2 separate regions of the Homo sapiens genome follow, and region 1 is linked to region 2. Evidence: fine-mapped expression QTL. A gene starts in region 2. The other region holds a variant in brackets. All regions are shown on one strand. Distances are between the middles of the regions.

Region 1 (5,367 bases), 34 kb after region 2:
TCCAACCCTTCATGTTCCACTAGAATCTGGATGACTCTTCTTGTTCTGCAGCAACTTCTCTTCATGACCCAGGGCTCTGCTGCCAAGCTCAACCAGATATGAAAACGGTTCATTCTAGTTCTGACAACAGTTTTGGCTTTGCCTGTGCATGGATGTGGAAGCTCAGATGGCCATAGCCTGGGCCGTTCTTCCCCACATGGCTTCTGACAGCTGGGGACCTTGGGAAGTAGATATTGAGAAATAACCAAGGTAGTTCAGCTGAATGATTATGAGCACCAGCTGGAGATTTGAGTCCTGGTCTGACATTCACTAGTTGAGGGACCTTGGGCAAAACATCTAATCTTTCTAAGCCTCAGTTTCCTTGCTGGCAAAATAATACCTGTCTCTCAGCATGGTTGTGAGGATTAAATGTAAAGTACTTGGCAAGATGCCTGGCACATAAGTGCTGAATAAATGTTAGCACTTTTAGCTTTACCATTATTAAACTATCCTAACAAAATTCCAAATTTCCAGAGAGCAGGCTCTATAGTCTCCCTCCCTCTTCCTTTTCTCTAGTCACTCTGACTTCCCTCTATTTGAAAGAAGTCCCATTGTATCAAAAACGTGGGTGGGTTATATGCCCCACAGAGGCAGATGCCAAGACCATAGCTATCCGCATTTTTCAAAAAGTGCAAATTCCTCCTTTTTTTCTCCCTCTTTTCTAGGCTGGGTTGGAAGCCAGGATGGGAGCCTGGCCAATGGTGAGTCAGAGGGGAGGACTGGAGCACCATTGTCTGGCTGGGACACCAGGTCACTGACACTTGGTAGTCCACTGGGCAGCTTTCCCTGCTATCTGTCCAGATGTGGAGTGAAGAGTGGGTATAACCTATTCATGTGGCCACCTCTTCCCTGCTCTATATCCTAAGTTATACCTCCAACTGCTGCTGTAGCTTCCTCTTCTTCCCAGCCTCCAGGTCCTTGACTAGGCACTATATTTACTCTATACTAAGAGTGCTTTCTCTTCCCTTTGTGCTTCTCCCAAATGGTATGGGAAAGATACCAGCAAGGCACTCTTCCCCCTAAGGAAAGGCAGGCAATGAAGGCATTCTCCAGATGCCTCAGTGATAAGAAATAAACCTTACACTTATGTCAACAAAAGGTAGGATCTTCAGAGGGTAGTGAAAAGGGATTAGATTATGAGGAGGAGTGGCCAGGAGAATGAAGCCGATGTTCTAACATCTCCCCTACCCCAGCACACAGAAAGACAATAGTACCTTTTCCTTTCCCACAGATGCTGCTCTGAGAGGCTCTGGTAGCTATCTCAAGTCTCAGGTCAGGGTGTGGAGGGCTTCTGCCACAGTTCTCATTAACATAGTAGATGTTAATGGAATGGCAGTTTATTTATTTATTTATTTATTTAGAGACGGAGTCTCACTCTGTCGCCCAAGCTGGAGTGCAGTGGCGCGATCTCTGGTCACTGCAACCTCTGCCTCCCAGGTTCAAGTGATTCTCCTGTCTCAGCCTCCCAAGTAGCTGGGATTACACGCGCCCACCACCACGCCTGGCTAATTTTTGTATTTTTAGTAGAGATGGGATTTTGCCATGTTGGCCAGGCTGGTCTCAAACTCCTGACCTCGTGATCTGCCTGCCTCAGCCTCCCAAAGTGCTGGGATTACAAGCGTGAGCCACCGCGCCTGGCCAGTGCAGTTTAATAAAAATGATTTGGGACACAGTCAGGAGCGTCAGCCTTGCCATGACCTATATGACCTGAGGCAACTCACTTTATCTCTCTGGGTCTGAGTTCTTCCTTTGTAAACTAAGGCAGGCAAAATACATGAATTCTAAGGCCTTTCCATTCTAACATTCCATGCTTTTATCAGTGAAATGAAACAGGGAGGACAGAAAGAACAGCGTAACCCTGTGTGTATATAGGAGGCATCCTGTCTCCATGCAGCCCTCTACCACCTTTTGTCTCTGGCCCTCCCCAGAATTTTACCTCATCCTCATTCTCCACTTTAGGGTTGCTGGCTGTTCGTTTCAGGTTGCTGCTGAGACTTATGCTGGCAGTGGCATCTGACTTAGAGCGCTGGTGAGTCCTTTTGGAGGGAGACAGCCCTGTGTCAGGGGCCGGGCTCAAGGAGGGCAGCTCCCTCTTCCTGTGAGCTGGCTTTAGCTCATCTGAGAGGATCAGCTTCCGTAGCTTGGTCCCACGGGAGTGTCGTTGAGTGGAAATGTGCATGTCTGAAGAATAGGCCCCAAGCAACAGGGCACACTGGAGGGAAAAGTTAATGCTCTGGCGGCAACGGTGGACTATGTAGGGCTTAATGGCATCACCCACGTCCTCATCCATGTGGATGTACATGTTAAGCAACTGGGGCAGATAGAAGTCCACGTCCTCGTTGCGAAAGCAGAAGAGCCGGTTGCCAATGTAGGCTTGTACTCCAGGCTCCTTGGAGTTATACAGGTATGAAATGGCCATGGAGATGTCAAACAGTTTTGACTCAAACAGCCTCAGCAGCCAAGACTGTTTAGCTGAGTTGTTCTGCCGCCGTCTTCTTGCTCCTTTGGCTGTGCCTGAGGCCACAGCGGCCCCCATCTCATCTTCCTCCTCCCTGATCTGGGCAGGTGGATCATCTAGGCAACGGATCTCACTGTCCACACCATCCCCATTGACCAACTCCAGTGGGGTGCCTCTGCTAGAGACTGCCACGCCTCCATGCAAAAGCTTGACTTTCTCCAACACCTCCTGGCAGGCCTTCTGGGCCACCTCAGGGTCAATCACTGATAGTTCCCCGACCCCCTCCGTGATGACACTTAGCAGGGACCCCCCATTATTCCCTGGTGGGCCAGAAGTGGGCTCAGAAGTTGGCTTCAAGGGGGCAGGCTCCACTACTGTATCTCCCATGGCCACAGCCAGACTTCGAGCTTCCAAGCTACAGGAAGAGGGAGGGAGAAAAGAACAGAAAGGGAGACACATACACACATTGGTTAGTGGTGCCATCCTCAGATCTTCCCTTTGCTATGACACCTTCCCAGGCACCTCCTCTTTTTGTCTTCCTGGACTCCTTCAAAATCAGATAAGAAGACATATCCTAGGAAGCTTTCCTGACTACCTCCACTTCTGATTACATTACTCGTCATTCCTCCTGTAGTTACTCAGCTTAGCCTCTGTTCTTAGCTTATATATGTGAAATGTTGTTTTGTATATGTTGTATTTATATAGATTTACAAATTCTT[TTTG/T]TTGTTGTTGTTGTTGTTGTTGTTGAGACGGAGTCTCGCTCTGTCACCCAGGCTGGAGTGCAGTGGCGCAATCTCAGCTCACTGTAAGTTCCGCCTCCCGGGTTCACACCATTCTCCTGCCTCAGCCTCCCAAGTAGCTGGGACTATAGGCGCCCACCACAACGTCCAGCTAATTTTGTTTTGTATTTTTAGTAGACACACGGTTTCACCATGTTAGCCAGGATGGTCTCCATCTCCCAACCTCATGATCCACCCACCTCGGCCTCCCAAAGTGCTGGGATTACAGGCGTGAGCCACTGCACCTGGCCTACATTTACAAATTCTTTTTTTTTTTTTTTTTTGAGACAAGGTCTTGCTCTGTTACCCAGGCTGAAGTGCAGTTGAACAATCTGGGCTCATTGCAACCTTGACCTCCTGGGCTCAAGCAAGCCTCCCACCTCAGCCTCCCAAGTAGCTGGGACCACAGGTGCACACCACCATGCCTGGCTTATTTTTAAATTTTTAATCTTATTATTTTTGAGACAGGGTCTTGCTCTGTTGCCCAGGCTGGAGTGCAGTGGCGCGATCAGAACTCACTGTAGCCTTGATTTTCTGGGCTCAAGCAATCCTCCTACCTCAGCTTCCCAAGTATCCAGGACTACACGCATGTGCCTCCATGCCTGGTTAATTTTTTAAATTTTTCTGTAGAGACAAGGTCTCACCATGTTGCCCAGCCTGGTCTTGAACTGAGCTCAAGCAATCCTCCCTCCTCAGCCTCGTAAAGTGTTGGAATTACAGGCATGAGCCACCATGCCTGGTGATTTACAGATTCTTCGGGTAGACTGAGAAGCAAGTCAGGTGTTACTCCCTTGTTCCCTAACTCTTCAAATACTTTTCTATCCACTTGCTCTTCCTGTCTCCCTTTAAATGCCTGCTATAACCTTTTTATTTTCCACTTTAGACTATATTTCCTTACTCATATAACATTCTACACACAGGTCCTGTGCATCTCACCTTTATTTTTATTTTTTAGAGACAAGTCTTGCTCTGTTGCCCAGGCTGGAGTGCAGTGGCATGATCATAGCTCACTGTAACCTTGAACTCCTAGGCTCAAGGCATCCTCCTGCCTCAGCCTCCCGAGTAGCTAGGACTTTAGGTGTGTGCCATCATGCTCAGCTAATTAAAAAAAAATTTTTTTGTGCAGATGGCGTCTTGCTGTGTTGCCCAGGCTAGCTTTGAACGCCTGGCCTCAAGCAATTCTCCTGCCTCAGCCTCCCAAAGCACTAGGATTACAGGTGTGAACCACCTTGCCCAGCCATCTTTATTTAATATTAAAGTCTTGGCTAGGCGCAGTGGCTCACGCCTGTAATCCCAGCACTTTGGGAGGCCGAGGTGGGCAGATCACGAGGTCAAGAGATCGAGACCATCCTGGCCAACATGGTGAAACCCCGTCTCTACTAAAAATACAAAAATTAGCCAGGCGTGGTGGCAGGCGCCTGTAATCCCAGCTACTCAGGAGGCTGAGGCCGGAGAATTGCTTGAACCTGGGAGGTGGAGGTTGCAGTGAGCCGAGATTACGCCATTGCACTCCAGCCTGGAGACAGAGTGAGACTCTGTCTCAAAAAAAAAAAAAAAGGCCGGGCGCGGTGGCTCACGCCTGTAATCCCAGCACTTTGGGAGGCTGAGGCAGGCGGATTACCTGAGGTCAGGAGTTCGAGACCAGCCTGACCAACATGGAGAAACCTCGTCTCTACTAAAAATACAAAATTAGCTGGGCGTGGTGGCGCATGCCTGTAATCCCAGCTACTTGGGAGGCTGAGGCAGGAGAATCGCTTGAACCCGGGAGGCAGAGGTTGTGGTGAGCCGAGATCGCACCGCTGCACTCCAGCCTGGGCAACAGAGCGAAACTCTGTCTCAAATAAATAAATAAATAAATAAATAAATAAAATTAAAGTCTTGATATATTTTTCTGGTTACAGGTATTTTTTTACCTTCCCTTTTAAACTCGAAGTTCCCAGAAAATAAAGGCCAGTAAATACCATGCCAGGCTTCACTTAGAAGAAGGCAGCTCTAAAACAACCATCATCAACCCTGCTGAAGCTGTGCCGTTTCTCTGGTTGTCTGACATCATGACATCACACCCTCTTTCTCCAGTGCCGTGGCTGCTAA
Region 2 (5,367 bases):
TGTAGAGGCAGAGTCCTGCTGTGTTGCACAGGCTAGTCTCGAACTCCAGGGCTCAAGTGAGCTACCCACCTAGACTTCTCAAAGTGCTGGGATTACAGGCGTGAGCCCCCCAAAATATTATGTGTATATGAGTAGTAATTGTTATTCCGCATAGGGAGACCAGAAGAGGAGGTGGAAATGGAATGCCGGTTGGTTACATCGGGTTAGGGACCTTTAATTAGTTGCTCAGAGAAGGAACAGCACCTGAGCAAATGCACAGGATGCAAGGCTCCGGGAGAAAGGGCACACTAATCCCAACTGCCAATTACTTTACAAAGCGTGTTTACATTCTAAACTCATTTAATTCTCACAAAAATAATATTGTCAGGTGGGTATTATAATCCCCGTTTTACTCATGAGAAAACAGGATCTGGGAGGTTGAGCGACTTGCCCATTGCGACCATAGGGCAAGTGGTGGCTCCAGGATTCCCATCCAGAAGTTCTGATTCATACTTCAAAGGAGCTCGGAAACTCTCCGGGTGCGCCGGGGAGTCCTGGTTCCGGTGTCCTGGGACTCCTGGGCAGGGTAACGAAACCACTTTTAAAAACTTTGCCGGGCCCGGTGGGTCACATCTGTAATCCCAGCACTTTGGGAGGCCAAGGCGGATGGATGATTTGAGGTCAGGAGTTCGAGACCAGCCTGGCCAATGCGGTGAAACCCCGTCTCTACTAAAAATACAAAAATGGCCGGCCGCGGTGGCTCATGCCTGTAATCCCAGCACTTTGGGAGGCCGAGGCGGGCGGATCACGAGGTCAGGAGATCAAGACTATCCTGGCTAACACGGTGAAACCCCGTCTCTACTAAAAACACAAAAAATTAGCCGGGCATTGTGGAGAGCGCCTGCAGTCCCAGCTACTCGGGAGGCTGAGGCAGGAGAATGGCGTGAACCCGGGAGGCGGAGCTTGCAGTGAGCCGAGATCGCGCCACTGCACTCCAGCCTGGGCGACACAGCGAGACTCCGTCTCAAAAAAAAAAAAAAAAGAAAAAAACAAAAATTAGCCGGGCGGGTAGTGTCGCACACCTGTAATCCCAGCTGGTCGGAAGGCTGAGGCAGGAGAATTGCTTGAGCCTGGGAGACGGAGGTTGCCGTGAGCCGAGATCCCGCCACTGCACTCCAGTCTGGACGACAGAATGAGGCCCCGTTTCAAAAAATAAAAAATAAAAAACTTCGCCAAGGTAGGGAGTAGTGGCTCACGTCTGTAGGATTGCTTGAGACCAGCCTGGGCAACATGGCAAAACCCTGTCTCTTCAAAAAATAAAAAAGTTAGCAGGGCGATTTGGCGCTCACTTGTAGTCCCAGCTACTCAGGAGGCTGAGGCGGGAGGATCACTGGAGCCTGGGAGGTTGAGGCTGCAGTCAGCCGTGATCGCGCCACTGTGCTCCCGCCTGGGCAGCAGAGTGAGGCTCTGCCTCAAAAAAATTAATTAAAAAATAAAAACACGCCGTTAACGAGCGGCTGCGTGCGCGAGGTGGCACACTGGGCTTGCATACGAATTCTGCCAGTGAGTGCTATTAGAGCATCAAGGAGATTCATTTTCCGAGCGACTCCTCCCTTTCCCCCGCCTCCAGGGGGCGTGGCAACAAAGCGCGGGAAAACTCGACCTTGACCCCACCCCCACTCCATGCTGGGGGCGGGGAAAAGGGGAGCCCTTAAATGGGAAATGGAGCTGGCGGTTCCCCCCCCAGCCCATACTTAGGACGCCTATCAGTTGCTCCTTTAATGCCTCTTTGGAAATGGCCCGGCCACGCCAGCACTCCTACGTCACCTCCCCCGCTTCCGGTCCGCGAGCCCTTCCCAACCTTTAGGTCCCGATTCCTTCCATGCTCCAAATCCCGTGCCCCGTCCACGCCCTCCCGCAGAGGGAGGAGCGACGGGTTACGCTGTCGCCCAGGAGCTGAACCGCGCGAGGACCCCATCCATCAGATTATATGGCGATTTAGACGGTGGGAAGACCGCAAGGAAATGGTCAGCGGATGACGTAATGTTTGGGGTGGCGTCCCATTCTGTAACTTCTGTACGGCATCAGTGACACGGGTTTAGCTTGAAACAGCGCAAAAGGACCTACACTTCTGTGCTCCACTCCGACTCAATGCGGTTCTGCTCTCAGTGCCCACCACACAGAAGCTGGGTTCCTTACATTCGCGAAAGTGAACTGCAGCTTCAAGCTTCGAGCGGCCAGTAGGGAGCGAGGGGCGGAGACGCACCTGGGTGCTCCCCCTTCCAGTAGGCAAGCTGGGAAGCAGGCTGGCTTCTTTCTAAGCGACAGTGGCGGAGGCCAATCGTTTACGAGACTCGTAGATGGGGCAGACGGACCCCGGCGCAGCCAATGGGGAGAGGTATCTTCAGAGGGCCTCGGCCCCTTGCCCAATGAGCATAAGAGGACTGTGCGGGGCTAGTTCCGAGCGGCAGTATTTAGGGCCAACCCAGTGCGGGGCTGGAAGGGGCACAGGGCTGAGCGACGGGGGCAAGGGCCAATGGCGAGTGCGAAAACGGGCAGCCCAGACCTGGAGCGCGGAGGGAGGAGAGGGAGTGGGGAGGCCGAACCGGAGAGAAGCAGGAAGTAGCGGCGGCCGCGGGGAGGGCGGCGGTGGCTGCAGCGGCTGGAGCGGGGTAGAGACCGCCGGGTCTCGGCCCGCACCAGGAGCGGAACAAGTAAGCGTGCCTGGGGTAAATACCCGCCCTTGGCTCCGCCCCCTTGGGGGGGGCGGGTAAATACCCCCGCCCCTCCCCCACTTGGTCAACTACCCCCTTCTCCGCGCCGCCCCCTGGGGCGGCTTCTAGGAAGGCCCAGACACCGCCTCCATCCATTGGGGCGGATGGGCGAAACTCCTGGCCTGTTGTAAGCACAGTCCGTAGCCGGGTAAACCCCCAGGAGGGTCGAGAACCCCAGGTCCTGGCGCCCCCGGCTCGAGAGGCACCCGAAGTGCGGCCCGGAGATTGAAGGCTGCGGGATGTCGCGACCTAAAATGGTGTCCGTTCCCGGGGATGGGGGCGGGGGACCTGGGCCAGGCCGGAGCAGAACCTGCACCCCGACTGGGTGCGGGTCAGCGTCCGGGCCCGGGCAAGACTCAGGCTTGCGCCCCCGGCCCCCTGCGCACCCCCCGATCAGTCTCCAGTCTCTAGCGAGCCTCCGGGAGTGCGCGGCGGGAGGAGGCTCCGCTGCGCCCGGAGGGGAGGGGACGAGGTCCGAGTTGGGACGGACCCCAGCTAGAGAGCTGAGAGTCGCGCAGAGACCGTCCCCTCTCTCCTCCCCTCTTTCCAGCTCCCCACCCTATCCTGTGTAGTCCTGGGTCCCCAGGTGCTGCGCAGCAGCTCCCAAAGGGCCTGGCCTGGCTGAGGCCCGGCCTTCGCTTCGCACGCCGGTGCGAGTGAGAGAAGGGCCGCGCGCCTCAGTTTCCCTTGTAGTTTCTCATGTGTACACCCCGCCCCCTCCTCGAAACCCAGGACTTGCTCCCCGCGCCAGCCCTCGGCAGATGGCAGGGACTTAATTCCGTCTGCTACCCAGCTTGGCCTCAACCTAATCGCCGCCAGCCCCTCGCCCTCCTCTGCGCTGCAGGCCTTGGGCCCGGGCAAAGGTCAGTGGAGCCCCCACTCGACCTGGGCCTGTTCAGCCTCTTCCTGTTCAGCCTCTTTGGCTTTTGGGGAACCACAGAGGGAAAGGGGGCGGGGGAGATAGGAGCCCTAGAGACAGGGCTCAGCAGTCGCAGGAAGGCCTGATCCTCCTTGGCTTGAGCTTGGCGGCTTGCTTGGTCGACTGTCTGCTCTGGGTGGGTGGCCATCGGATGACCTCTAAGTCACTGGGGCACCCAAGAGGGAGGTGGCTGGCGGGGTGTGGGGGCGGGTGAGTTCGCAGGTGTTTTCTCCTAGTCCCCGCTGGTCTTCGTTGTAGCAGTCCACTTTTCTGAGTACCTGAGTGGAAGGTAGCTCAGGCCTCTGGTCAGGAGGGAACCAGGCTTAGGAGCCAGGCCTATAGAGACAAGGGTTTTTGTTTAAACCCAGATTCTGCAGAATTGAATAGGGTGGGGGTGAGGGGAGGACTCCCCCTTTGGTTTTGCCCCCACCCCAACCTTGGTCCCAGCAATCCCAGCTGCCACTTGCTGGGACTGTCTCTAGTTACAGTCTGAAGACTGGAGAGAGGTGGGAGAGCTGGCTGGGAAATGGCCTGCAACCTGGGCAGGGAATGGATAGGGATAGACTCTTTAGTTGCTTCTTCGTAGATACAGAAACACTCATGGGGAGACACTGGTAGGGGACAGACCTGGGTCTCCCACAAACTCTGAGCTGGCCTGCTTGTTGGATTAGTGCCACATAATTCTTGTGGGATTTTTAATTTTATTTTTTGCACTTGGCCAGGTTGAGGCTAGGTGAAACTTCCTGGGCTACTGTTGCCACAGGAAAATGGAAAGGGTGAGGAGTTAAAGTTAGGGGATGGAATGGGGTGAGGAGCTTGGAGCAGAAATGATGGGTGAGGGTTGAGGGAGCCTGGCTTTTTCCCACTGTGGCAGCTGTGCTGGAGAAATGTGTATGTATCTTGGGAGTTTTAGCCTCGGGAAAGCAAGATGGGGAGGGGTGGAGAAGGAAGGGCTGGCTAGGGGAGGGCCAGGCACTCTGGGGAAGGTAGTGAGCGAGCAGCAGGTGTTTGTGACAGGAGAGGTCTAGGCTGGGGCCCTTGTGACCAGGCTGCCATCACCATTTTCCCCTCTGTCTCTTCTCTTTGTCTCTTTCTGTTCCTGTGTCTTATTCTTTCCATCTTGGTCTCTTGGGTAATTTCCTTGAGTCCTTTTCTCCCTGCTGACCAAGCTAGATCTCCAGGTGCCAGTGATGGCCCAGGTGCCCTAGACTTGATCCTGCATGACCCCTGACTCTTGCCTCCGACCCCAGCCCTAGAGTTCCAGTGCTTATTCCTTTCCAGTTCCTCCTTGACCTGACATGTCCTTGCTTGGTTCATCTGGAATAGTAAATCGTATTCTTGGTGGGATTCTTACATTAGCAATTTTGTATTATGCTCAGAATAACCCTATGATACATAGATCACTTGTGCTCTCTGCCTTGTCTTGTCTTTTTTTTTTTTTTTTTTTTTTTTTTTGAGACGGTATCACTCTGTCACCCAGGCTGGAGTGCAGTGGCATGATCATGGCCCATCACAGCCTCGACCTCCCGGGCTCAGGGGATCCTCCCATGTCAGCTGGGAGGCATAGCTGGGACTACAGGCACGTGCCATCATGCCTGGGGAGTTTCACCATGTTGCCCAGGGTGGTCTTGAACTCCTGGGCCCAAGTGATTGGCCTCCCAAAGTGCTGGGATTACAGATGTGAGCCACCACACC

The links. PIP is the estimated chance that this variant, and not a neighbour inherited with it, causes the effect.
Region 1: its variant is fine-mapped to the expression of ZNF687-AS1 in whole blood (INTERVAL, PIP above 0.99).

The regions. Positions count from the first base shown.
Region 1 is chr1:151,313,598-151,318,964 of GRCh38, forward strand. It overlaps PI4KB (phosphatidylinositol 4-kinase beta), which reads right to left. Exons shown (of 12, transcript NM_001369623.2): 2 at 1,976-2,912. The coding sequence starts at 2,884. Among named protein-coding and RNA genes, the nearest start is that of PI4KB, 11 kb to the right of the region's middle. The variant TTTG/T (reference allele first, on the strand shown) is at 3,217.
Region 2 is chr1:151,279,703-151,285,069 of GRCh38, forward strand. It overlaps ZNF687-AS1 (ZNF687 antisense RNA 1), which reads right to left and starts at 2,227. Exons shown (of 2, transcript NR_135595.1): 1 at 1,841-2,227; 2 at 322-556. It overlaps ZNF687 (zinc finger protein 687), which reads left to right and starts at 2,597. Exons shown (of 9, transcript NM_020832.3): 1 at 2,597-2,693. RefSeq lists silencers at 1,477-1,817, 2,499-2,778, 3,059-3,218 and enhancers at 1,560-2,444, 1,939-2,138, 2,169-2,398, 2,445-3,330, 3,639-3,708.